5 separate regions of the Homo sapiens genome follow, and all the other regions are linked to region 4. The links come from fine-mapping of genetic effects on gene expression. A gene starts in region 4. Each other region holds a variant in brackets. All regions are shown on one strand. Distances are between the middles of the regions. Region 1 overlaps SCART1 (scavenger receptor family member expressed on T cells 1). Region 2 overlaps LOC105378575 (a long non-coding RNA gene). Region 3 overlaps MTG1 (mitochondrial ribosome associated GTPase 1). Region 4 holds the start of CYP2E1 (cytochrome P450 family 2 subfamily E member 1). Region 5 has its middle 28 kb from the start of SCART1.

Region 1 (5,101 bases), 56 kb before region 4:
CAATGTCCTCCATGTCCATGTAAAATCCAGTCCTTCCAGGCCCTGCCTGGCTCTAAACCTCATCCCCTTCGAGGGCCATCTGCTGTGGACAGTTGTGCTGTGTAACCTTCAGATTTCCCACACATTACAGCAAATGCAAATACACATAGAAATCAGTGGTTCCATTTGTGGTTTAGAGACACATGGTGCCATCTTCATCTTCCGCTCCACAGCTCGCTTCTGGCACCCAGCAGTGGGTTGCAGAGCTCCCCATGCCAGAACCTTCCTCTTTTTTCTTAAAAACTCTTCTTAATTGAATCCAAAGTATCTTTTAAATGTTCTACTTGTGTAATCATGTCATCTGTGAATATTCAGATTTATCTTCTCCTTCCAATCCGTGTACATTTAATCTCTTTTTCTGTGCCTTATTTCGGGGGCTGGGACCCTTCAGTCCAGTGTTGAAGAGAGGCAGCCAGTGGAGGTCTTGTCTCATTCAAGGACTCAGAGCAAATGTGTTCCACATTTAATTTCACTATGAAATATAATATTTGATGTTCAGTTTTGTAGATGCTATTTATCAGATCAAGGAAAGCCCAGTCTATACCTAATTTGTTAAGGGTTTTGCTTTTTATCATAAGTGTTGACTTTTATCAAATTCTTTTTTGTATCTATTAAGATGATAGATGATTGATTTTCATATGTTAAATTAACCATGGGTTAAACAAACTTACCTTTATCATGATATATTATTCTTTTTGTATTTCACAGGAATTAGTTTGGTAATATGTTGGGTCAATGTTTAAAAAAGAAAATGATGTGTAATTTTTTTCTTTTATTGTAGTATTTCTGTTTAATTTTTGGTATGAGGATTATTCAGGTCTCATAAGAGTTAGGAGTATATTCTCTTTTAAAAAATATTTGCTAATTTACACTCCCACCAACAGTGTAAAAGTGTTCTTATTTCTCCACATCCTCTCCAGCATCTGTTGTTTCCTGACTTTTTAATAATCGCCATTCTAACTGGCATGAGATGATATCTCATTGTGGTTTTGATTTGCATTTCTCTAATGACCAGTGATGATGAACTTTTTTTCATATGTTTGTTGGCTGCATAAATGTCTTCTTTTGAGAAGTGTCTGTTCATATCCTTCACCCACTTTTTGATGGGGTTGTTTGCTTTTACCTTGTAAATTTGTTTAAGTTCCTTGTAGATTCTGGACATTAGCCCTTTGTCAGATGGATAGATTGCAAAAATTTTCTCCCATCCCGTAGGTTGCCTGTTCACTCTGATGACCTATCAATGATAGACTGGATAAAGAAAATGTGGCACATATACACCATGGAATATTATGCAGCCAGAAAAAAGGATGAATTCATGTCCTTTGCAGGGACGTGGATGAAGCTGGAAAACATCATTCTCAGCAAACTAACACTGGAACAGAAAACCAAACACTGCATGTTCTCACTCATAAGTGGGAGTTGAACAATGAGAACACATGGACACGGGGAGGGGAACATCACACACTGGGGCCTGTCAGGGGGTGGGGGGCTAGGGAAGGGATAGCATGAGGAGAAACACCTAAGGTAGATGACGGGTTGATGGGTGCAGCAAACCACCACGACACGTGTATACCTATGTAACAAACCTGCACATTCTGCACAGGTACCCCAGAACTTAAAGAATAATTTAAAAAAATTTGCAAGAGTTTATGTAGCATTGGTTTTATTTCTTCTTAAATGTTGGAAGAACTCACTAGTAAAGCTCTCTAGGCTTGGAGTTTCCTCTTTAGTGAGGTTTTTTTTTTCCAGATTTAATTTTTTAAAATAAATAGTTGAAGTATTCAGATTCTCTATTTCCTATTAGATCTGCTTTGTTCAGTCCTTTTAAAAAATGAATTGGTACATTTAATCTAAATTTTCAAGTTTTTCCATATAAATTTGTTAATAGTATCTTTCTACTAGCCTTAATGTCTACAAAATCTGTAGTCATGTGCATTTTTCAATCCTGATAGTGGCAATTTGTGTCTTCTCTCCTTTTTTTTTTTTTTTTTCGAGACCAAGGTCTCACTGTGTTGCCCACACCAGACTCAAACTCCTGGGCTCTAGCGATCCTCCCTCACAGCCCCCCGCACAGCTGGGACTCTGGGCACTCTGCTGTTCTTGACCGGTGCTGCTGGCGGCTTCATCTCATTAGTCTTTCCAAGGCACGTGGAGCTTGTGCCTTTGGTTTTCTTGATTTTTCTTGGTGAACATCTGCCTTCTAATTCGTTTATTTCTGTTCTCATCTTTGTGATTTCCTTCTGCTTATTCTAGCTTTTTTATATGGACATTCAGATTGTTGATATTCAGCATTTTTTCTTTTTTAATGCATATATTTTAGGTTATAACTTTCCCTTTTAGCATGGCTTTGGCTGCATTCCAAGAGTTTTGATATGTTGTGATTTTGTTTTAATAGGTTTATGGGGGTATAATTAGCATATAATAAACTTCACATATTTAAAGAATACATTGCAATAAGTTTTGACATGCACGTACACCCCTGAAAGGATCGCAGC[G/A]TCTATGAGAATGGACGCATCCATCGCCCCCAACGTTTTTCATGTATGTTTGAACATCTGTCCTGTCCCTTCCTGTGTCCTGCCCCTCAGGTGATAAAGTTCAGCTTTCTGACACTGTAGACTAGTTTGCACTATTTTAATTTTATGTAAATGGATTATATAGTATGTACTCTTTTTTCGGGGATGAGAGTCTGGCTTTTTTCGCTCAGCACAATTACTTGCGATTCATCCATGTGGTGAGAAACCATAGTTCATTTCTTCCTCTTGGCAAATAGCGCTCCATTGTGCTGTTTACCTGTTCACTTGATGGACATTTGCATTGCTTAAAGCTTCCAGCTATTGCAAAAAAAGCTGCTACAAATATTCATGTACCAGTCGTCATATGGACTCGTGCTTTCATTTCTCTTGGCTACCTAGGAATGGAACGATTGTAAGGTACGTGCAAGTTTAACATTCTACCAACCTTTCTGGAGTGGCTGCATCATGTTACATCTCCCCAGTAATCTCTGAGTGTTCTGCTTCCTCCACAAGGTTCCAACACTCGGTTGATAACGTTTGACATTCTAACAGGTATATGGTGCTGTGTCCTTGTGGTTTTAATTTGCATTTACCTAAGGACTAATGATATTGAACACCTTTTCATGTGTTTATTTGCCATCTGTATATGTACTCTGTTGAAGTGTCTGTTCAACATTTTTGCTCATGCTTTATTGGGTTGTTTGAGTTTTGAGCATTCTCATGAGCTCCCCTGGGGTGGTCCTTTCCAACTGTGGCCCTGGTACTGAGGGGTCCTCCCCACAGCAGGAACACAGGAAGAAAGTGTTCAATCAAGTCCTGCAGGATGGCCTCAGCCAGGTCCAGATGTGGGCTTGGGGGCCAGGCCACACTAAGCACCTTCCTCCCTCTGGGCTGTCTCCCCACAAGACTCACAGAGCTGAGCCAGGTGTCCCATTGGGCACACAGGGGACCCCACCCTGACAGCGGCCCCCATTGTACTTTGGGCCATTGCTGATCTTTGCTCTTGGTGGGCTGGCGGCTCAGATGTTGCCCAAGAGGCTGTGGGGCAGGAGCAAAGTCTGGGAGACTGGGAGGCTCTGGCTCTTAGGAAGTATCAAAGGCACCCAGGCCTGTGGGAAGAGGTGTCCTGGAGAGGAAAATGGCAGAGGGAGGTGTGTCTGCCCCAGCCGTGTGGGGCTGGAGAGTTGGGGAGAGAATGCATTTGCTATGACAATTCAGTGTTAAGAGTCCACGTGCCAGCAGAGCAGCCCCCAGCCTTGGCGCTACTGACCTTGGGGCTGGGTTGTTCTCTGCGTGGGGCCATCCTGTGCATCACAGGTGCTGAGCAGCATCCCTGGCCTCCACCCACCAGGCACCAGTGGCAGCCCCCTTCCAGTTGTGACAATAAAAAAATGTCTCCAGACGTCACCAAATGTTTCCTGGGGGCAAAATCAGCACAGTTGGAACTTCTGGGTTAGCAGCAGATTGGATAGGATGATGGTGAGTGACTGCCTAAACCATCACCAGCCTGTGTGAGCTGACAAAGGAGGGCTCCTTACTTATGAGTTTATTTGTGTAAAGTCTTAAAAAATTAAAGATATTAGCTTAGTAATTATACACATAATGAATTAACTTTACTGAAAAGAATAGTATGTAGAAAAAATGAGAATTTTAGCAAAATTATTAGACGGTGATGAATGTGGTGTCTCCCTCCTGAGATCTGGTTGTTGAGTGCGGCGTCTCCCTCCTGAGATCTAGTCGTTGAGTGTGGCGTCTCCCTCCTGAGGTCTGGTCAGTTGAGTGTGGCATCTCCCTCCTGAGATCTGGTCAGTTGAAAGTGTGGCGTCTCCGTCCTGAGATCTGGTCATTGAGTGTGGCGTCTCCCTCCTGAGATCTGGTCAGTTGAGTGTGGCGTCTCCCTCCTGAGGTCTGGTCAGTTGAGTGTGGCGTCTCCCTCCTGAGGTCTGGTCAGTTGAGTGTGGCGTCTCCCTCCTGAGATCTGGTCAGTTGAGTGTGGCGTCTCCCTCCTGAGATCTGGTCAGTTGAGTGTGGCGTCTCCCTCCTGAGGTCTGGTCAGTTGAGTGTGGCGTCTCCCTCCTGAGATCTGGTCGTTGAGTGTGGCGTCTCCCTTCTGAGATCTGGTCAGTTGAAAGTGTGGCGTCTCCCTCCTGAGATCTGGTCAGTGGAAAGTGTGGCGTCTCCCTCCTGAGATCTGGTCAGTTGAAAGTGTGGCGTCTCCCTCCTGAGATCTGGTCAGTGGAAAGTGTGGCGTCTCCCTCCTGAGATCTGGTCGTTGAGTGTGGCGTCTCCCTCCTGAGATCTGGTCGTTGAGTGTGGCGTCTCCCTCCTGAGATCTGGTCATTGAGTATGGTGTCTCCCTCCTGAGATCTGGTCAGTGGAAAGTGTGGCGTCTCCCTCCTGGGATGTAAGTTGTTGAGTGTGGCGTCTCCGTCCTGAGATGTGTTCAGTTGAGTGTGGCATCTCCCTCCTGAGATTTGGTCATTGAGTGTGGTGTCTCCCCCTCTTTCTTGTTCCTCTTTTGCCATGTGAGGCACCTGCTCCCCCTTCAC
Region 2 (5,101 bases), 30 kb before region 4:
TGCACTGCTGTGGCAGAGGTTCTCTATGAAGGCCTTGCGCTTGCAACAAACTTTTGCCTGGGCATCCAGGCATTTCCATACATCTTCTGAAATCTAGGCGGAGGTGCCCAAACCTCAATTCTTGACTTCTGTGTACCCACAGGCTCAACACCATGTGGAAGGTGCTAAGGCTTAGGGCTTGCACCCTCTGAAGCCATGGCTGGAGCTTTACCTTGGTCCCTTTTAGTCATGGCTAGGGGCAGCTGGGACACAGGACACCAAGTCCCTTGGCTGTACACAGCATGGGGACCCTGGGCCTAGCCCAGGAAGCCATTTTTATCTTGTACACCTCCAGGCCTGTGATGAGAAGGGCTGCTGTGAAGACCTCTGACATGCCCTGGAGAGGCATGTCTTTTCCCCATTGTCTTGTGAGTTAACATTCTGCTCCTCGTTACTTATGCAAATTTCTGCAGCTGGCTTAAATTTCTCCCCAGAAAATGGGATTTTCTTTTTCTATTGCATTGTCAGGCTGCAAATTTTCCAAACTTCTATGCTGTGCTTTCCTTATAAAATGGGATGCCTTTAACAGCACCTGAATCACCTCTTGAATGTTTGCTGCTTAGAAATTTCTTCCACCTGATACCCTAAATCATCTCTCTCTGGTTCAAAGTTCCACAGGTCTGTAGGGCAGGGGAAAAATGCTGCCAGTCCCTTTGTTAAACATAACAAGAGTCACCTTTGCTCCACTTCCCAACAAGTTCCTAATTTCCATTTGAGATCACCTCAGCCTGGACTTTATTGTCCATATTGCTATCAGCATTTTGGGCAAAGTCTCTAGGAAGTTCCAAACTTTCCCACATTTTCTTATCTTCTTCTGAGCCCTCCAAATTGTTCCAACCTCTGCCTGTTACCCAATTCCAAAGTCAATTCCACATTTTTGGGTATCTTTTCAGCAACACAACAGCCCACTCCTGGTACCAAAATCTGTATTAGTCAGGGTTCTCTAGAGGGACAGAACTAATAGGATAAATATTATATATGTATATATATATGTATATATGTAAATGGGAGTTTATTAAATATTAACTAACATGATCACGAGGTCCCCACAATAGGCTGTCTGCAAGCTGAGGACCAAGGAGAGCCAGTCCAAGTCCCAAAACTGAAGAACTTGGAGTCTGATGTTTGAGGGCAGGAAGCATCCAGCATGGGAGAAAAATGTAGGCTGGAAGGCTAAGCCAGTCTTGCCTTTTCATGTTTTTCTGCCTGCTTTATATTTGCTGGAAGCTCATTAGATGGTGTCCACCTGATTAAGGGTGGGTCTGCCTTCCCCAGCCCACTGACTCAAATCTCCTTTGGCAACACCCACACAGACTCACCTAGGGTTAATACTTTTTACAGTCCTTATTTCTGCAGCTGGTCATGTGGTCGTAGCTGGTATTGATGACTACCTTCTTCTATCACCCACTGTGTATTCCCTTTGCCTTCTGCAAGCACCTCATCAGATCAAGGTTTTTTTCCTGGTGGAGTGACTTAAACCTTCATTCCTGAAGGGTCTGGACCATTTGTAGTCCTCCCTGGATTGGGCTGTTGTAGTTTCTCATTGACCTTAATCACAGGGCATGGTAATACTAAGTGACATCCTAATGGATCTCCTGTATTCCATGCATGCTCCTCCTTACCTCTGTTATGGAGTAGTAGACTGATTTCATCTTGATAGTCTGGGTCAATCAACCTAGCCAACACTGTAACTCCCTTCTTAGCCTGTTTACTTAAAGGTAGGAGGAGCCCGAAGTGTCCAGGTGACAATCTTAACTTTCAGTTTAATGGAATTGTTGTTGTGTCTCCTGGTGGCAGTGTTACTCCCTCTGGAACTAAGATCTCTAGGCTAGCAGAACGTAATGTTGCAGGAACAGGAAGCAAAAATTTTGCTACTGGATCATTAGGGGTGATGGTGAGTGGTGCCACTTCCACTTCCACCCCTTGATTCCTGGACCCGTGAATCCTGGCTATGGGAGAAACAGTACCATATATCAGATGCTGATCCAGTGCATACACAGCCTTCTAGAGTACTTTGCCCCAGCCCTGCAAAGTATTGTCATCTAATTGACATGGTAATTGTAGGGTCCAGCCCCACAGGGTTGGTGCATTTTCTCCTTCTGTGTGGAGACGAGAGAGCGTAGAAATAAAAACACAAGACAAAGAGATAAAAGAAAAGACAGCTGGGCCCGGGGGACCACTACCACCAAGATGCGGAGACTGGTAGTGGCCCCGAATGCCAGGCTGCACTGATATTTATTGGATACAAGACAAAGGGGCAGGATAAGGAGTGTGGGCCATCTCCAATGATAGGGAAGGCCACATGGATCACATGTCCCCTGGACAGGGGGCCCTTTCCTGCCTGGCAGCCGAGGCAGAGAGAGAGAGGAGAAAGAGAAACAGCTTACACCATTATTTCTGCTTATCAGAGACTTTTAGTACTTTCACTAATTTGCTACTGCTAACTAAACGGCAGAACCAGGTGTACAAGATGGAACATGAAGGCAGACTAGGAGTGTGACCACTGAAGCACAGCATCACAGGGAGACGGTTAGGCCTCCGAATAACTGTGGGTGGGCCTGACTAATGTCAGGCCTTCCACAAGAGGTGGAGGAGTAGAGTCTTCTCTAAACTCCCCTGGGGAAAGGGAGACTCTCTTTCCCGGTCTGCTAAGTAGCGGGTGTTTTTCCTTGACAC[T/C]AACGCTACTGCTAGACCACGGTCTGCTTGGCAATGGGCATCTTCCCAGATGCTGGCGTTACCGCTAGACCAAGGAGCCCTCTGGTGGCCCTGTCTGGGCATAACAGAAGGCTCACACTCTTGTCTTCTGGTCACTTCTCACTATGTCCCTTCAGCTCCTATCTCTGTATGGCCTGGTTTTTCCTAGTTTATGATTATAGAGTGAGGATTATTATAATATTGGAATAAAGAGTAATTGCTACTAATGATTAATGATATTCATATATAATCATATCTAAGATCTATCTCTGGTATAACTATTCTTATTTTATATTTTATTATACTGGAACAGCTCGTGTCCTCGGTCTCTTGCCTTGGCACCTGGGTGGCTTGCCACCCACAGCAATTGTGACTTTGAAAGGCCATTCCACCGTTCTATCAATCCAGCTGCTTCAGGATGATGGGCAACGTGGTAAGACCAGTGAATTCCACGAACATGAGCCCACTGCTGCACTTCTATGGCCGTAAAGTGAGTACCTTGGTCAGAGGCAATACTGTGTGGAACACCATGATGGTGGATAAGGCATTCCATGAGTCCACAGATGGTAGTCTTGGTAGAAGTATCGTGTGCAGGATAGGCAAACCGATATCCAGAATAAGTATCTATTCCAGTGAGGACAAATCTCTGCCCTTTCCATGATGGAAGAGGTTCAATATAATCAACCTGCCACCAGGTAGCTGGCTGACCACCCTGAGAAATGGTGCCATATCGAGGAATCAGTGTTGGTCTCTGCTGCTGGCAAATTGGGCACTCAGCAGTGGCCATAGCCAGATCAGCCTTGGTGAGTGGAAGCTCATATTGCTGAGCCCATTCATAACCTCCATCCCTGCCACCATGGCCACTTTGTTCACGGGTCCATTGGGCAATGACAGAGGTGCTTGGGAAAGAGGCTGAATGGTGTCCACAGAAGTGGTCATCCTATCCACTTGATTATTAAAATCCTCCTCTGCTGAGGTCACCCATTGGTGAGCACTCACATGGGATACAAATATCTTCACAGTTTTTGACCACTCAGAGAGGTCCATCCACATACCTCTTCCCCACATTTCTTTGTCACAATTTCCGATCATTCTTCTTTCAAGTCCCTGACCATCCAACCAAACCATTAACTACAGCCCATGAATCAGTATATAATCACACATCTGGCCATTTCTCCTTCCATGCAAAGTGCACAACCAGGTTCACTGCTCTTAGTTCTGCCCACTGGGAAGATTTTCCTTCCCTACTGTCCTTCAGGGATGTCCTAGAAAGGGGCTGTAGTGCTGCAGCTCTCCACTTTTGGGTGGTGCCTGCATATCATGCGGAACCATCCACGAACCAGGCCCAACTAATTATAGGGAACTTCCCATGAGGCCGTTGGGGCAGGCTCGGGGAGAGAAGGAAGGGTGGCAGGAGTGGAGACCATGGGCATTTGAACCACTTCCTCATGTAACTTACTTGTGCCTTCAGGACCTGCTGGAACCTGATCACATATATACCACTTCCATCCTGTGGTCATTTCCCTAGTGCCACTTCCATTTGATGACGGAATGCTGCTGTGCACAACCCACTTAATGGCTAGATGGGTCAGAAAGCACCCAGTTTATGATAGGCAGTTCAGGTCGCGTGGTGACTTGGTGACCTACAGTCAAACGTTCAGTTTCCACCAAAGCCCAGTAACAGGCTAAGAGCTGTCTCTCAAAAGGAGAGTAGTTATCTGCAGAAGATGGCAGGGCCTCGCTCCAAAATCCTAGAGGCCTCCACTGTGATTCACCTATGGGAGCCTGCCAAAGGCTCCAAACAGCATGCCTATCTGCCACTGACACCTCAAGCACCATTGGATATGCTGGGCCATATGGCCCAAGTGGCAGAGCAGCTTGCACAGCAGCCTGGACCTGCTGCAGAGCCTTCTCTTGTTCTGGACTCCACTCAAAACTGACAGCTTTTCAGGTCACTCAATAAATGGGCTGGAGTAACACACCCAAATGAGGAATGTGTTGCCTCCAAAATCCAAATAGGCCCACTAGGCATTGTGCCTCTTTCTTGGTTGTAGGAGGGGCCAAATGCAGCAACTTATCCTTCACCTTAGGAGGAATATCTCTACAGGCCCCATACCACTGGACCCTTAGAAATTTTACTGAGGTAGAAGGTCCCTGAATTTTAGGCAGATACACTTCCCATCCTCTGGCATGCAAATGTTTCACCAATAAGTCCAGTGTTTGCTACTTCTTGCTCACTGGATCCAATCTGCATAATGTCATCAATGTAATGGACCAGTGTGATATCTTTTGGAGGCAAAAAGCGATCAAGTTCTCTCTGAATAAGATTATGACACAAAGCCAGATAATTCATATACCCCTGAGGTAG
Region 3 (5,101 bases), 110 kb before region 4:
AGCTATCTATGACAAACCCACAGCCAATATCATACTGAATGGGCAAAAACTGGAAGCATTCCCTTTGAAAACTGGCACAAGACAGGGATGCCCTCTCTCACCACTCCTATTCAACATAGTGTTGGAAGTTCTGGCCAGGGCAGTTAGGCAGGAGAAGGAAATAAAGGGTATTCAATTAGGAAAAGAGGAAATCAAATTGTCCCTGTTTGCAGATGACATGATTGTATATCTAGAAAACCCCATTGTCTCAGCCCAAAATCTCCTTAAGCTGATAAGCAACTTCAGCAAAGTCTCAGGATACAAAATCAATGTACAAAAATCACCAGCATTCTTATACACCAATAACAGACAAACAGCCAAATCATGAGTGAACTCCCATTCACAATTGCTTCAAAGAGAATAAAATACCTAGGAATCCAACTTACAAGGGACGTGAAGGACCTCTTCAAGGAGAACTACAAACCACTGCTCAATGAAATAAAAGAGAATACAAACAAATGGAAGAACATTCCATGCTCATTGGTAGGAAGAATCAATATTGTGAAAATGGCCATACTGCCCAAGGTAATTTATAGATTCAATGCCATCCCCATCAAGCTACCAATGACTTTCTTTTTTTCTTTTTTTTGAGATGGCATCTCACTCTGTCGCCCAGCCAGGCTACAGTGCAGTGGCACAATCTCAGCCCACTGCAGCCTCCACCTCCTGGGTTCAAGCGATTCTCCCGCCTTAGCCTCCCAAGTAGCTGGGATTACAAGCATGTGCCACCACACCTGGCTAATTTTTGTATTTTTAGTAGAGACAGGGTTTCACCATATTGGTGAACAGGCTGGTGTCGAACTCCTGACCTCAAGTGATCCGTCCACCTTGGCCTCCCAAAGTTCTGGGATTACAGGCGTGAGCCACCATGCCTGGCTGGATGCCATGTATTTTGAGTTTCACCTTGTTAGGTGATGGATATCTACATTCCTGTAAAAATTCTTGAGCTTTGTTGTGGGACAGTTAGATTATTGGAAACAGTCCGGTCCTTTCAGGAGTTCTTCCCATTGGCAGGTCTCGGGGGTGGTCCGGGGCGCCTCCTCCAGGCTTGCTCCTCTCTCCTGGGACAGCTTTTTTGGAGCACCAGGGCACCCTTGAGGCTGCTGATTCAGAGCTCATGCTTGGTGCCTCCGAGAAGTTAGATTTAGAACCTGTGTTACTCAGGGTTCTGATGCTCCTATGGGCTCTGAGCTCATGTCTTGCTTTGCTGGGCCTTGGGGTGAGTCCTCTGTTACCGGCTCATGCTGTGACCAGGTCCGAGGGCACCAGCCTCCTCAAGGTTGAGCCTGCCCTCGTGGGAGCCACGAGACAGGTTCCCCTCACCCCTGGCTGTCAGGAAGGTTGGGAGAGTGTTGGGTCTGGGTTAGTCGGGCTCCCAAGGCTTAGGGTGGTGTTTGTCCCTGTGAGTGGCTGCTCTGTGCTGGCCTTTCCCTCCAGGCCTCTCTGCCCAGAGCCTGCACTGTGAGGAGTCAGAGTGCCCGTTACAATCACTGGGTGACGCTTAGCAGCGGTGGGTGCCTAGTCAGCCCATGCTGGTCCCTGTGCTAGGAAAACACCGCTCAAACACCCAGCCGGGTGGAGAGGATGCAGGTGTACTGGCTGCCTGGAAGTTACCGAGTGCCATCCTTAGCAGCAAACAGAGTATGTTTGCAGATGGTCTGCTGTGCTCCTCTTTTAGTTTCCAGGACCTGGGCCTGCACAGAGGCCTGCCTGTCCTACCCCGGATAGAGTGGATGAAGCCTGTGTGTGTGAACAGCTGTTACTCCTCCCGCTGCGGCAAGGGCTCCGGTGGTGGGAGCCGCCCCCCATGCTGCTGGCCGTGGCCACACAGGACGAAGCTCAGGGATGATTCTTAGATAGTGGCTCTCCCCCGGGGCCCAGCACCGGTCACCTGCAGTCTCATCTTGGTCATCCACAGCGCCGCAGTCACTGTCACCCACAGGAGGTGCCTGGCCGTGGCCTTTGTGGCATTCAGGAGGAAGGGCCCGGCCTGGCTGGCCGCGCGGTGTCAGTGCTGGGCCCCCTGGTGCTGACCTGCAGCCTATGTGCAGGTACGTGCAGCACTACGGCCTGGGCAGTGCCTGTGACAACGTAGAGCGCGTGCTGAAGAGTGTGGCTGTGAAGCTGGGGAAGACGCAGAAGGTGAAGGTGCTCACGGGCACGGGTGAGTGAGGTCGCTGATGCGGGCACCGGAGCCTCACCCCATCACCCTGGGGGACCCCGGCCATCCCTGGAGGAGGCAGGGAGGAGAGGAACGTGTCAAGGAGCATGCGCCGGGTCTTCTGGGAATGGGTTTCAGGGCAGGGGAGCTACAGAAAGTTCTGGAGAGGAAGGGCTTGTAGTCCAGGCTTCCGAGGGTGAGACCAGCCCTGCCGCGTATTGGGCAGTGCTAGGTGGACACCTGCAGGCCTCACATGCCTGGCCTTGGAGGCTCCGGGCAGCGTAGCTCAAGCTGTTTTCTTTCTGAGTGTGATCCCGTTCCCTGGGCTTCCCTGATGCCATCATGGAGCCTCTTAGGGCTGGTCCCTCAGGTGGGTAAGGGCTGGGCCTGTCCTGCTGTGAAGGCTCCTTCCTCACTGAACCCTCCCGTCCCCCAGGTAACGTGAACATTATTCAGCCTAACTATCCTGCGGCAGCCCGTGACTTCCTGCAGACTTTCCGCCGTGGGCTGCTGGGTTCCGTGATGCTGGACCTCGACGTCCTGCGGGGCCACCCCCCGGCTGAGACTTTGCCCTGAACTTGTCCGGGTAGGGAGGGCCGGAGGCATGTGGCCTCCCAGACCTCCTGACCTGGGTGGTTGAGGCTCAAGACAGCTCACCCGGTCCAGAAGCTCCATGCTGGTCACTAGGGTGCTGTGCTCTCTGGCGCCCCACAGCCTGGCCAGCTCCAGGGACCCCAGTTGCAGGGCCCAAGCAGGTGGGAGTGGACACCAGGCTTCCC[A/T]GTGGACGTCCCTGAGCAGCTCCGCATGCTTGGTTCTCCCGGAGCTTCCTGCTCAGGCCTCTTGAGAAATGGATGCTGTCTCAGAAGGAGTTAAAGCTATAACCTGTAACCTTTAAAATCTCCAGTTAAAGGGCCTGTTTCTTACTGGCCTGTGAGGTGCACCGTAGTGCCTTGGGCCTGTGTGTTAAAGCTGCTCTCACCAGTGAAACCTAAGAAATGAGCAGGTTGGCAGCTAGGGTTTGTGTTGGAGGCTTTCGGTCCAGTGTCTTGCAGTCCTACAACAAGTGAGAGGCTTGCTGCCATCAGAGAGGTTTATTTCACACTTACAGGCACACACAGACACAGACCAGAGACTCCCAGCAGCAGAGCCCAAGCACTGGCTTCGCCCCTCAGTGCCCTGGGGCATGTTCAGGGCAGGGTTGAGGGGGACGCCCTGCACATGGCTTTGCTGTGCAATGACTGGAAGGCCGCCCGGCATGGGCAGTAGAGACCCCTGGCCTCTGAGCACCTTCTAGCTCACGGGTAGTGGGATTCTGCATTAGTGGGGCTGAGAGATGTGGGGGCCCCTCCAGCCCCATTATAGTGCACCTGAAGGGGTCCACAGCCTGTGTCCTAGAAGAGGGAAGAGGAAGGAAGGTGGGTGGGGCTGGTAGTATGGACTAAGGTGCTGCAGGACCTGGGGCCAGGGACATCCTGTGCAGAAGCTCCGGCTGCCTCTTTGCGGTGGTGGCCTGACCGTCCCACAGCAGCCTCCACCAGGGCCCTGGTGCTCAGTGGCCCCTCTTTGCTGGCTGGCTGCCTCTGCTGCCCCATACCCCACACACTCATCAGCCTGAAGTTAGCCCCTGAGTGCCACCTGCATCGTGCCATAACCCTGACCGCCTGGGGCAGGAAGTATTCAGGTTGGCTGTGTCAGATGCTAATGTGCTGAATCAACAGTCATTGCAGATCACGAAGTGTCCATCATAACTGGAACATTCCATCAGCTTGCAGTGCTGTGGTGTGTGAGGGTCTGGTGCAGCTCAGCCCATTTTCCAGGTGGGCATCTGCAAAGTTGAGGGGGCTCCGGTGGGTCTCTCTGCTGTGAGGAGACTCAGACCACCCCCTGCCTCCTGGGGGAAATGTCAGAAGGGCTTCTCTGCCTATGAGGATCTGGGGCAGGGCTTGGCCTTGGCCTGCTGGTCTTGGAGGCGTTGAGCTTGGTCTGGAAGGGGTGGAGGAGCGTCTGGGCTCACTGGGCCAGGGGCATTGCTGGCAGTGTGGACGGGAGGCTGCAGGGCGCTGCCTCCTGTGGCTTAGTGCCCTGGAGCTAGAGAGCAGTGCTTGGTTGAGTCCTGCCAACAGCTTCCAGATCCTCACCCAGGCCAGAACCCAGGCCAGCTGGGGAAGGCAGAGGCTGGCAGGGCCCGTGGTGGGTGCTGGTCTTGACTTTGGTGTCCACTGAGTCCCGAGGCTCAGGCCCAGGAGGGATGCAGTCCGGCTGAGGGCGAGGCTGTCCCCAGGACATGGAGAGGGTGAGATCCCAAGGCCACGGCGGGGGGCAGGGAGAACCCCTCCTACCCTGGATGAGTGGGTGACTGGAGAGCTAGAGAACGTGGCAGACCCAAGACCTCTCAGTGCTGAGCCCATGGAGGATGCCCCAGGCTGGCGGGACTGGGAAGCAGAGGGCTGGTCTTAACACAGGTGTGTCCAGTGCTGGAGGCAAGTCCTTGTCGTGACTGTCCAGCGCCACTCCATGTCTCTCCTGTCCTTGGATGTTGGGGGGCTCAGCCTCTTGCATGGGTGTCCTGCTGGGCGCTGGGCCCCGCCACTGGCCCCCTGCTTGCTTTGGGGTCTGAGTTAGCTCCTGGCTCCACTGAGCAGGCCGTCAGCTGCCAGCCCACCACGCGGATACCCAGGCCCTGTTCCGAGGCCTGGAACAGCTGCTTCCGAAGAAGGGGCTGCCTTCAGGGAAATGCGTGCACCGTGCAGCCTGTGCTGTGCCCAGGGAGGCCTCTTCAGCGGGATTGGCAGTTGCTGTGCCCTGAGAACAGGCAGAACTGTGTGATCCCTGAATGTGAACCTGAAGTTCAAAGGACTTGGAAAGCTCTGGAATGTGTTGGTTTTTCCCCCCCAAAATGGG
Region 4 (5,082 bases):
TGGGACTCGCAGTTTCCACTTCACCCACTTTTGTGTTGTTTGCATTCGTTAAAAGGAGATATTTTACTTCCCCAATTAAAATTATCTTTCTAATCTTTATAAACAATTATTTAATTCCAGTAAATCTTCTCTATATTGCTTTACTAGTGAGTTCTATTAAAATTTTGAAGCACAGAAAATTCCCCTACAGTATAAAGTATCCCCAGTCACAGAGAAGACAGGGGTTTTGCAATGATTTCTAGAATAGTGCAATTTTTATGCAAGAACCTAATATAACACAAAAATTATAGCCCGATTTTATTTGTGGGTATAGATGCAAAATTACTAAAAATACTATTAACAAGTTGAATCCTTAGGGTGTTAAAAGAGTATCACTCCATGAACGAGTTGGTTGTGATGTGGAACTATGAGGTACTTTTATGATACAATATAAAAATTTATGGTAATTTTATGGTACATTGTGAGACAGTGTTTTCTTCTAGCATCATACTAGCAGGTCTATGGAGAAAAATCACAGGATTGTCTCAATCAAAAAAAGATTTCATTAACCCAACTCTCATCCCTGATAAACACTGTTAGTTATCTAGAGAAAGAAGAAAATTGTCCCAATACAGTCACCTCTTTGCCACACCCAGCCAACAGCAGACGTGATGGAAGCCTGAAGAACACCCTGCCACGGGCACAGGCAGAGGCACAGGCACCCTGTCGTCCTGATTATTTCACCTTGTCACGGGCAGAGGCACAGGCACCCTGTCGTCCTGATTATTTCACCTTGTCACGGACAGAGGCACAGGCACCCTGTCGTCCTGATTATTTCACCTTGTCACAGGCACAGGCACCCTGTCGTCCTGATTATTTCACCTTGTCACAGGCACAGGCACTCTGTCGTCCTGATTATTTCACCTTGTCACGGGCAGAGGCACAGGCACTCTGTCATCCTGATTATTTCACCTTGTCCTAGAGTGTCCTGCCAATGGGACAGATGCAAAACAAATAAAAGCCCCGGCTTCTGAAAAGAAGCACACAGAAATGTCATTATTTTCAAACGAGGTGTTCCCGTATATAAAATTTGATGTTGGTTGGGCATCTAACAGTATTATGGCCAGAGGACTCAGACCACAGCTGCATCCCTGTGAGGCACAGACTCTCCAGGGCACGCGGGTCCCGCCTGGGATGTGCACACTCAGGTGAGCTGCACAGACAAGGTGTCCTCAGCCCAGGGGAGCCAGAGGCCTGCTCTGCCTCTCCACCCTGATGCTTCCTGTTCTCACCCCACCAAAGCCAAGGCTTCAATTTCAGTCTGTGGGGAGCTGACTCTGCTGCTCTCAAGCACTAGAAGAAGGAACCAGTAATCGAGGAAACTTGTGGACCCCAATGGGTGTCTGTCCCGGCCAGGCCTGGCTGGGCCCACACAGGACAACAGGGTTCAGGGGTCTGGACAGCTGTTTCTGCCCAGGGAATTGTCCCTGCCACCTCACACTGGCCACTGGAAAGGAAAGAGAGGAGGAGGCGGCAGGCTAACCCACCCGTGAGCCAGTCGAGTCTACATTGTCAGTTCTCACCTCGAGGGGTGCCAAAAACCAGAGGGAAGCAAAGGCCCCTGAAGCCTCTGCCAGAGGCCAACGCCCCTTCTTGGTTCAGGAGAGGTGCAGTGTTAGGTGCAGCACAACCAATGACTTGCTTATGTGGCTAATAAATTGTCAAGAGAAAAACTGGGTTAGAATGCAATATATAGTATGTAGTCTCATTTTTGTATAAATACAAGTATAGAATGGCATAACTCAAAATCCACAAGTGATTTGGCTGGATTGTAAATGACTTTTATTTTCTTCATTTCTCATCATATTTTCTATTATACATAAAGATTCATTGTTAATATAAAAGTACAAAATTGCAACCTATGAATTAAGAACTTCTATATATTGCCAGTTAGAAGACAGAATGAAAAACATTCTCTTCATTCTAACCACACACACAAAAAAGCTCCACAAAATACCTATGGACTACCTTCATAGAAGGTGGAAGAGGGTCTGTATGAAGAAAATAATTAATACATGAAAGAAGAAGCTAGTCAATGTGGAGCTCTATTGTGTCCCGGGATCAACAAAGACAAGATATCTTTAAAATCGTCTTCTAAATTTACCCTAATGTAAAACAAATCCAATAAAACTCTAATGTAATTTTTTAAGAATTTAAATTTGGAATAATTCCAAAGAACAATTTTTCTTAATTTTCTACAGCCAGAATATATACCTTTAAAAAAAATGAAAACAGAGATTAACTTTCTCAGAATTGGTTGACTCACTCTTTCCTTTTATTTTTCTTCCATGGAATTTTCCAGTTAACTTGAGAAAGTGGAATCGAATTCCGATGTTGAATTTTCCTTCTGGCCCCATTCATGTGGCAGGTGGTGATTCAGGTACTACTGGGGGCTGCTCAGACAAACCTCCTCATCAGACATCAAGAGGCTGTTGCACCAGGAGGGCCGGTACCGTGTCTAGAGGTGGTCGGCATGGGGTTGGAGTTGTATTACATAAACCCTACTCCAAACAAATGCATGGGGATGTGGCTGGAGTTCCCCGTTGTCTAACCAGTGCCAAAGGGCAGGACGGTACCTCACCCCACGTTCTTAACTATGGGTTGGCAACATGTTCCTGGATGTGTTTGCTGGCACAGTGACAGGTGCTAGCAACCAGGGTGTTGACACAGTCCAACTCCATCCTCACCAGGTCACTGGCTGGAACCCCTGGGGGCCACCATTGCGGGAATCAGCCTTTGAAACGATGGCCAACAGCAGCTAATAATAAACCAGTAATTTGGGATAGACGAGTAGCAAGAGGGCATTGGTTGGTGGGTCACCCTCCTTCTCAGAACACATTATAAAAACCTTCCGTTTCCACAGGATTGTCTCCCGGGCTGGCAGCAGGGCCCCAGCGGCACCATGTCTGCCCTCGGAGTCACCGTGGCCCTGCTGGTGTGGGCGGCCTTCCTCCTGCTGGTGTCCATGTGGAGGCAGGTGCACAGCAGCTGGAATCTGCCCCCAGGCCCTTTCCCGCTTCCCATCATCGGGAACCTCTTCCAGTTGGAATTGAAGAATATTCCCAAGTCCTTCACCCGGGTAAGAGAAATAGTGTTGATTTTAGGGAGAATAACTCAGCAATTGGATCTGGTATGTGTGTATTCAACTCATTTGCAGACAAATTGTGGTTGTTCAATACCAGCCTGTTGTGAATTACCTGAATTGATAGCATCCTGGAGCGACACTCAAAATGTGTCGCCTGTGGTGCAGCTGGAGCCCGGAGCCTGCGTGCCAGGCCCCGGAGGCCCCCGCCGGTGCCTTGTCCTGGGGCTGATGATGGGGAGGCCGGCGAGGCCGGGCTGCTGCGACGCCAGGATAACCGGGCTGGCGGCCAGATGCGCACTCGCTGGGCGTCCGCCTGTGTTTGCCAAAGCACGAGTTGAAACGTGAAGTGTTGGGCCAGCCCGTGTGGCACCAATACCTGCCGCCTACGACTGTTGTGAACACTGAATGGGCCAACAAACCTAAACGTTAAATGAACTGATAACGCCGTCAGCACGGAGCAGGCGCTGGGTGTTTGCGCTCTTGCGCGTGCGCTCTGTGGGGCGCAGGCTGACGGCGGGCGGGGGTCGCCTGCTCCAGCTCGGGCTCCCGCGCCAGAACCGGGTCCAGAACCTTGATTCCGGAAGCGGGCAACGGGGTGGTTGGTGGGCGCGCCTGAGGGAAGGGACGTGAGGAGCCGGAGTCCGCGGAGTTGCCGCGGAGTTGTCCGCGGAGTCCAGGCGGGTGGGGAGCAGAGCAGCTGGAACCCCCCGAGCGCCCTGCAGACGCAGCAGCCTCTTGAGGGGAGGGTCTCCCCCACCTCGGGCTGGACAAAGACAGCTTTTCCCCACGTCCCTCTGGGTTCTCTAGAGCAACAGCAATACCCGCCCGGCAGGGGTGTGGCTTAGAGCCCCGCACCTCCTCGCCGCGCGGCGGGCCTGACTTCTAGCCACGGGTCTCCGCAGTTGGCCCAGCGCTTCGGGCCGGTGTTCACGCTGTACGTGGGCTCGCAGCGCATGGTGGTGATGCACGGCTACAAGGCGGTGAAGGAAGCGCTGCTGGACTACAAGGACGAGTTCTCGGGCAGAGGCGACCTCCCCGCGTTCCATGCGCACAGGGACAGGGGTGAGTCCGCGTCCCTGGCACGGAGCGGGGGGTGCATAACACGCCCCGGGACAGTTACGGGCGCTAGCCACGTCGGCGATGGCCAAATAATAAACTAACAGTAATATTATAGTAACAGCATCCGAAGGATGAGATCAGGATTAGGGCGATGGCCCCCGCGCGTTGCCTGCGGAGCGAGGCGCACTGAGTCGCCCAGGAATCCGGCCTCTCGGCGACTGTGCGGGAGAGTTTATGGGGATGGGCGGGGCTGCTTCTGAGCAGGAGTCGCCGCCCCCACCCCCACCGTTCCGCCTCTGGGCCCGCAGGCTCCTCCCGGGAGCGCTTTCCCCTCCTGTTCAACCGCCGGGGTACAGGTGGCTTCGTCCACCGAGGTCCCCTCACCCACGCTGAGGCGTCGGAAGCTGCGGACACTGCTCGCTTCAGGGCTTTGCTCAGCTGCAGCTGGTGACCTCCAGAGAGGGAGTCTCTGATGTCCCGCTGGGGTGGATGTCCTGAGACCGGGAAGGGGGAAGAGACCCACTGAAATCCTATCTCCCAGCCTCACCTCTGCTGTCTCCTCCACGCTTCCTGTCTCCAGAGCCCCGAGTTCAGCATAAGCAGAAAGCGGCCTGTTCCCTCTCTAGGGAGAGGAGGGTTGCGGTCTGGAGGTCTGGCTCGTCTTTATCTGCGCATTCTCCCAGCCTCCTGGCTTCAGACCTCAGCGAGGCGGCGGCTGCCGGCCGGCTCTCCTCTTCCTGCCTGCAGACCTGGCCTGCTGCTTCTTTCTCCTTCCTCCCTCCCTGCCTGCCCTGCGGTTTCAAAGTAGATTAGAAATAACAGTGTCCCACATGGAAGCCTCTACTTCTTCCTGGGTCAACTTTGATGACGAGGCTCCAGAAAACCTTTGCAATGCTGTG
Region 5 (5,101 bases), 46 kb before region 4:
GCGAGCAAGCGGACAGGTCCCAGAGAGTCTCAGCAGGACAGCGAGCAAGCGGACAGGTCCCAGAGAGTCTCAGCAGGACAGCGAGCAAGCGGACAGGTCCCAGAGAGTCTCAGCAGGACAGCGAGCAAGCGGACAGGTCCCAGAGAGTCTCAGCAGGACAGCGAGCAAGGGGACAGGTCCCAGAGAGTCTCAGCAGGACAGCGAGCAAGGGGACAGGTCCCAGAGAGTCTCAGCAGGACAGCGAGCAAGGGGACAGGTCCCAGAGAGTCTCAGCAGGACAGCGAGCAAGCGGACAGGTCCCAGAGAGTCTCAGCAGGACAGCGAGCAAGCCGACAGGTCCCAGAGAGTCTCAGCAGGACAGCAAGCAAGCGGACAGGTCCCAGAGTCTCAGCAAGACAGCGAGCAAGGGGACAGGTCCCAGAGAGTCTCAGCAGGACAGCGAGCAAGCGGACAGGTCCCAGAGAGTCTCAGCAGGACAGCGAGCAAGCGGACAGGTCCCAGAGAGTCTCAGCAGGACAGCGAGCAAGCCGACAGGTCCCAGAGAGTCTCAGCAGGACAGCGAGCAAGCGGACAGGTCCCAGAGTCTCAGCAAGACAGCGAGCAAGGGGACAGGTCCCAGAGAGTGTCAGCAGGACAGCGAGCAAGCGGACAGGTCCCAGAGAGTCTCAGCAGGACAGCGAGCAAGGGGACAGGTCCCAGAGAGTCTCAGCAGGACAGCGAGCAAGCGGACAGGTCCCAGAGAGTGTCAGCAGGACAGCGAGCAAGCGGACAGGTCCCAGAGTCTCAGCAAGACAGCGAGCAAGGGGACAGGTCCCAGAGAGTCTCAGCAGGACAGCGAGCAAGCGGACAGGTCCCAGAGAGTCTCAGCAGGACAGCGAGCAAGGGGACAGGTCCCAGAGAGTCTCAGCAGGACAGCGAGCAAGGGGACAGGTCCCAGAGAGTCTCAGCAGGACAGCGAGCAAGCCGACAGGTCCCAGAGAGTCTCAGCAGGACAGCGAGCAAGCGGACAGGTCCCAGAGTCTCAGCAAGACAGCGAGCAAGGGGACAGGTCCCAGAGAGTGTCAGCAGGACAGCGAGCAAGCGGACAGGTCCCAGAGAGTCTCAGCAGGACAGCGAGCAAGGGGACAGGTCCCAGAGAGTCTCAGCAGGACAGCGAGCAAGCGGACAGGTCCCAGAGAGTGTCAGCAGGACAGCGAGCAAGCGGACAGGTCCCAGAGAGTGTCAGCAGGACAGCGAGCAAGGGGACAGGTCCCAGAGAGTCTCAGCAGGACAGCGAGCAAGCGGACAGGTCCCAGAGAGTGTCAGCAGGACAGCGAGCAAGCGGACAGGTCCCAGAGAGTCTCAGCAGGACAGCGAGCAAGCGGACAGGTCCCAGAGAGTCTCAGCAGGACAGCAAGCAAGCGGACAGGTCCCAGAGCGTCTCAGCAGGACAGCGAGCAAGGGGACAGGTCCCAGAGAGTGTCAGCAGGACAGCGAGCAAGGGGACAGGTCCCAGAGAGTCTCAGCAGGACAGCGAGCAAGGGGACAGGTCCCAGAGAGTCTCAGCAGGACAGCGAGCAAGGGGACAGGTCCCAGAGAGTCTCAGCAGGACAGCGAGCAAGCGGACAGGTCCCAGAGCGTCTCAGCAGGACAGCGAGCAAGGGGACAGGTCCCAGAGAGTGTCAGCAGGACAGCGAGCAAGGGGACAGGTCCCAGAGAGTCTCAGCAGGACAGCGAGCAAGGGGACAGGTCCCAGAGAGTCTCAGCAGGACAGCGAGCAAGGGGACAGGTCCCAGAGAGTCTCAGCAGGACAGCGAGCAAGGGGACAGGTCCCAGAGAGTCTCAGCAGAACAGCGAGCAAGCGGACAGGTCCCAGAGAGTCTCAGCAGGACAGCGAGCAAGCGGACAGGTCCCAGAGAGTCTCAGCAGGACAGCGAGCAAGCGGACAGGTCCCAGAGAGTCTCAGCAGGACAGCGAGCAAGGGGACAGGTCCCAGAGAGTCTCAGCAGGACAGCGAGCAAGGGGACAGGTCCCAGAGAGTCTCAGCAGGACAGCGAGCAAGCCGACAGGTCCCAGAGAGTCTCAGCAGGACAGCGAGCAAGCGGACAGGTCCCAGAGAGTCTCAGCAGGATGGCGAGCAAGAGGACAGGTCCCAGAGAGTCTCAGCAGGACAGCGAGCAAGCGGACAGGTCCCAGAGAGTCTCAGCAGGACGGCGAGCAAGAGGACAGGTCGCCTGGCCACCCTGTTCCTGGGCTGGTGGCACTAGCTGTGCCCAGTGACCCCTGAGGGCCTCGCGCTCCTAATGGCAGCAGACAACCACACAGCGTAGAGGCGTTTGTCCTGCAGGGTTTCTCTGAAGACCTTCCACTCCAGGGCTGCTGCTTTGCTTTTTTCCTCCTTTACCTGATGGCACTTGTAGGAAACATCCTCATGGTCATGGCCATCAGTCTGAATCCAGGCCTCCACACGCCAGTGTACTTCTTTCTCACCAACCTGGCCCTTTTAGACATCGTCTGCACATCCATGGACAACAGCAGAGTGGTGGCTGTGCTGTACACAGTGGTCAGCCCCACCCTGAACCCCTCACCTACTCCCTGCGGAACAAGGACTTATCAGTAGCACTGAGGAGAGTGTTTTCTTGCATCAGGTAAAAG[G/T]AAGGGAAGTTTCTAGTGTGAAATGTTCCAGGTGTTAACAAACTAATTTCAACATATGACTTTGAGAATCTCATGCAAGCAGCAAGGAACAAGAAAGTAATTAATGCCACATATTTATAAATAATGTGCTCCCGCACGGGGCTGCCATCATTCAATGTGGAACTCCCAACATCCCAAGGCTGTATGGGTAGGTGCAGTCAGGGCTACAAGGCAGCAGGGAGCTAAGGGAGGGCCAGCGGCTAGTTGAGCAGGAGCCCAAAAGGGCCACTTAACACCCTCCGACACCCCATGCACCTGCTTGACTCCCTTTCACTGGCAACTGGGTCCCAGGAGCAATGTGGGAGCATTCACCTTGGGGGTGCCGCTGGCCGTGTCTTCGTTTAGTCAGGGGTTCTTGCCCGGGGATGGGTCGAGAGTCACATATGCCCACTGTGCACACTGCCTGGTCTATGTTGACGGGGTGGGGGCATTTCTTGATATCCTGCTTTGGAGAAAATCACCCAAACCCCGACTCTCCAACCCAACTCCTCTTGGTGTGAGGTCAAGGAAAACATGAGAAATGCTCTCCTCCCTGTGTGAGGTTTCGTGGTCCTGGCACCATAAAGGGTGAGAGATGGGGTTATCCAGCCTTTCTTTTTAATGACCTGCAGGAAATACATGGGGCTTTACTGATTTACTTCCTTTCAGAGAAGGGCATTCTCATTCTTTAATTTATGCACCAATCACCTACATTCTGTCATTAACTTATTATCTTTGTTTAATTGATTATCCTTGTGTCCATCACCAATCCATCTATTTTATGCATTTCAAAGCCAGTTGCAAACATCATTTCACTTCTTAAATACTTCTGCGTGCATATCATTAAACATTTGTTTATAGTTATTTTTCCTTTTAAGGTAATATTTTCAAACAACAAAATGCATAAATAAGGGTGTACGTTTGCTGAGTAATGTAATTATCAAATCAGGTGCCCATGTGTGATGATCAAATCGGGTACCCGTGTGTGATGATCAGATCCTTCTGTCTAATTGTATGTTTGTACCCCTTAACAACCTCTGTTCATCCCCTTCCCCCACACTCTTCCCAGCATCTGGTAACTATCATTTTACCCTCTACCTCCATGAGATCAACTTTTTAAGCTCCCACATGTGAGTGAGAACATGCAATATTTGTCTTTCTATGGCCAGCTTATTTCACTTGTCATAATGACCTCCAGTTCCATCCATGTTGCTGCACATGATAAGATTTCATTCTTTTTTATGGCTGAATAGTATTCCATTGTGTATATATACCACATTTTCCTTATCCCTTCATTCATTGATGGACACTTAGGTTGATTCCATATCTTGGCTATTGTGAATAGTGCTGCAATAAACATGGGGGTACAGGTATCCCTTTGATATACTGATTTCTTTTCCTTTGGATAAATACCCAGTGGGATTGCTGGTTCATATGGTAGTTCTATTTTTAGTTTTTGAGAAACCTCCATACTGTTTGCCATGATGGCTGTACTAATTTACATATCCACTAACAGTGCACGAGAGTTCCCTTTTATCTGCGCTCTTGCCGCCATTTGTTATTTTTTTGTCTTTTTGATAATAACCGTCCTAACTGGGATGAGATGACATCTCATTGTGGTTTTGATTTGTGTCTCCCTGATGATTCTTGATGTTGAGCATTTTTTTTACATACCTGTTGTCTATTTGCATGTCTTCTTTTGAGAAATGTCTATTCAGATCATTTGCCCATTTTTAAATCTTTTTTTTTCTGTTGAGATGTTGCAGCTTCTTTTATATTCTGGATATTAATCACTTCTTGGATGATTGGTTTGCAGATATTTTCTCCCATTCTATAGGTTGTCTCACCACTCTTTTGATTGTTTCCTTCACCATGTAAAAATCTTTTAGTTTGATATAACACTATTTGTTAATTTTTGCTTTTGTTGCTTGTGATTTCAAGGTCTTATTCATAAAATCTTTTTTTTCAGACCAATGTTCTGAAGCATTTACCCTATGTTTTCTTCTAGCAGTTTTATAGTTTTGGGTCTTACATTTAGATCTTTGATTCATTTTGAGTTGATTTTTGTATAGAGTAGAAAGGGGTCTAGTTTTATTCTTCTGCATGTGAATATCTAGTTTTCCCAGTACCATTTATTAAAGAAGCTGTCCTTTCCTCAGTGAATATTCTTGGCACCTTTGTCAAAAATCAGTTGGCTGTAGATATGTGGATTAATTTCTGGGTTCTCCATTCTGTTCCATTGGTCTATGTGTCTGTTTTTATGCCAGTACCATGCCATTGCTGTTTTGGTTACTGCAGCTTTGTAGTATATTTTGAGGTCTGCTAATGTGATGATAGCTTCAGCTTTGTTCCTTTTGCTCAGGATTGCTTTGGCTATTCGGGATATTTTGTGATTCCATACAAATTTTATGATTTTTTTTCTAGTTCTGTAGGAATGTCATTGGTATTT

Evidence for each region.
Region 1: its variant is fine-mapped to the expression of CYP2E1 in whole blood (TOPMed, PIP above 0.99).
Region 2: its variant is fine-mapped to the expression of CYP2E1 in whole blood (TOPMed, PIP 0.98).
Region 3: its variant is fine-mapped to the expression of CYP2E1 in whole blood (TOPMed, PIP above 0.99).
Region 5: its variant is fine-mapped to the expression of CYP2E1 in atrial appendage (GTEx, PIP 0.99).

The regions. Positions count from the first base shown.
Region 1 is chr10:133,468,077-133,473,177 of GRCh38, forward strand. It overlaps SCART1 (scavenger receptor family member expressed on T cells 1), which reads left to right. Exons shown (of 12, transcript NM_001396050.1): 12 at 1-1,684. Among named protein-coding and RNA genes, the nearest start is that of SCART1, 17 kb to the left of the region's middle. The variant G/A (reference allele first, on the strand shown) is at 2,535.
Region 2 is chr10:133,494,783-133,499,883 of GRCh38, forward strand. The region is part of intron 4 of LOC105378575 (a long non-coding RNA gene); the gene reads right to left. Among named protein-coding and RNA genes, the nearest start is that of CYP2E1, 30 kb to the right of the region's middle. RefSeq lists a silencer at 2,741-2,820. The variant T/C (reference allele first, on the strand shown) is at 2,716.
Region 3 is chr10:133,417,390-133,422,490 of GRCh38, forward strand. It overlaps MTG1 (mitochondrial ribosome associated GTPase 1), which reads left to right. Exons shown (of 11, transcript NM_138384.4): 10 at 2,091-2,203; 11 at 2,637-5,101. The coding sequence ends at 2,776. It overlaps SPRN (shadow of prion protein), which reads right to left. Exons shown (of 2, transcript NM_001391974.1): 2 at 3,277-5,101. Among named protein-coding and RNA genes, the nearest start is that of SPRN, 4.7 kb to the right of the region's middle. The variant A/T (reference allele first, on the strand shown) is at 2,980.
Region 4 is chr10:133,524,455-133,529,536 of GRCh38, forward strand. It overlaps CYP2E1 (cytochrome P450 family 2 subfamily E member 1), which reads left to right and starts at 2,909. Exons shown (of 9, transcript NM_000773.4): 1 at 2,909-3,118; 2 at 4,027-4,186. The coding sequence starts at 2,942. It overlaps LOC105378575 (a long non-coding RNA gene), which reads right to left and starts at 2,505. Exons shown (of 5, transcript XR_946512.3): 1 at 2,306-2,505; 2 at 1-1,689. RefSeq lists promoters at 1-2,916, 1,547-3,004, 2,363-2,916, cis regulatory regions at 1,356-1,362, 2,588-2,612 and enhancers at 1,534-1,946, 2,235-2,362.
Region 5 is chr10:133,478,939-133,484,039 of GRCh38, forward strand. It overlaps the pseudogene OR7M1P. Among named protein-coding and RNA genes, the nearest start is that of SCART1, 28 kb to the left of the region's middle. The variant G/T (reference allele first, on the strand shown) is at 2,635.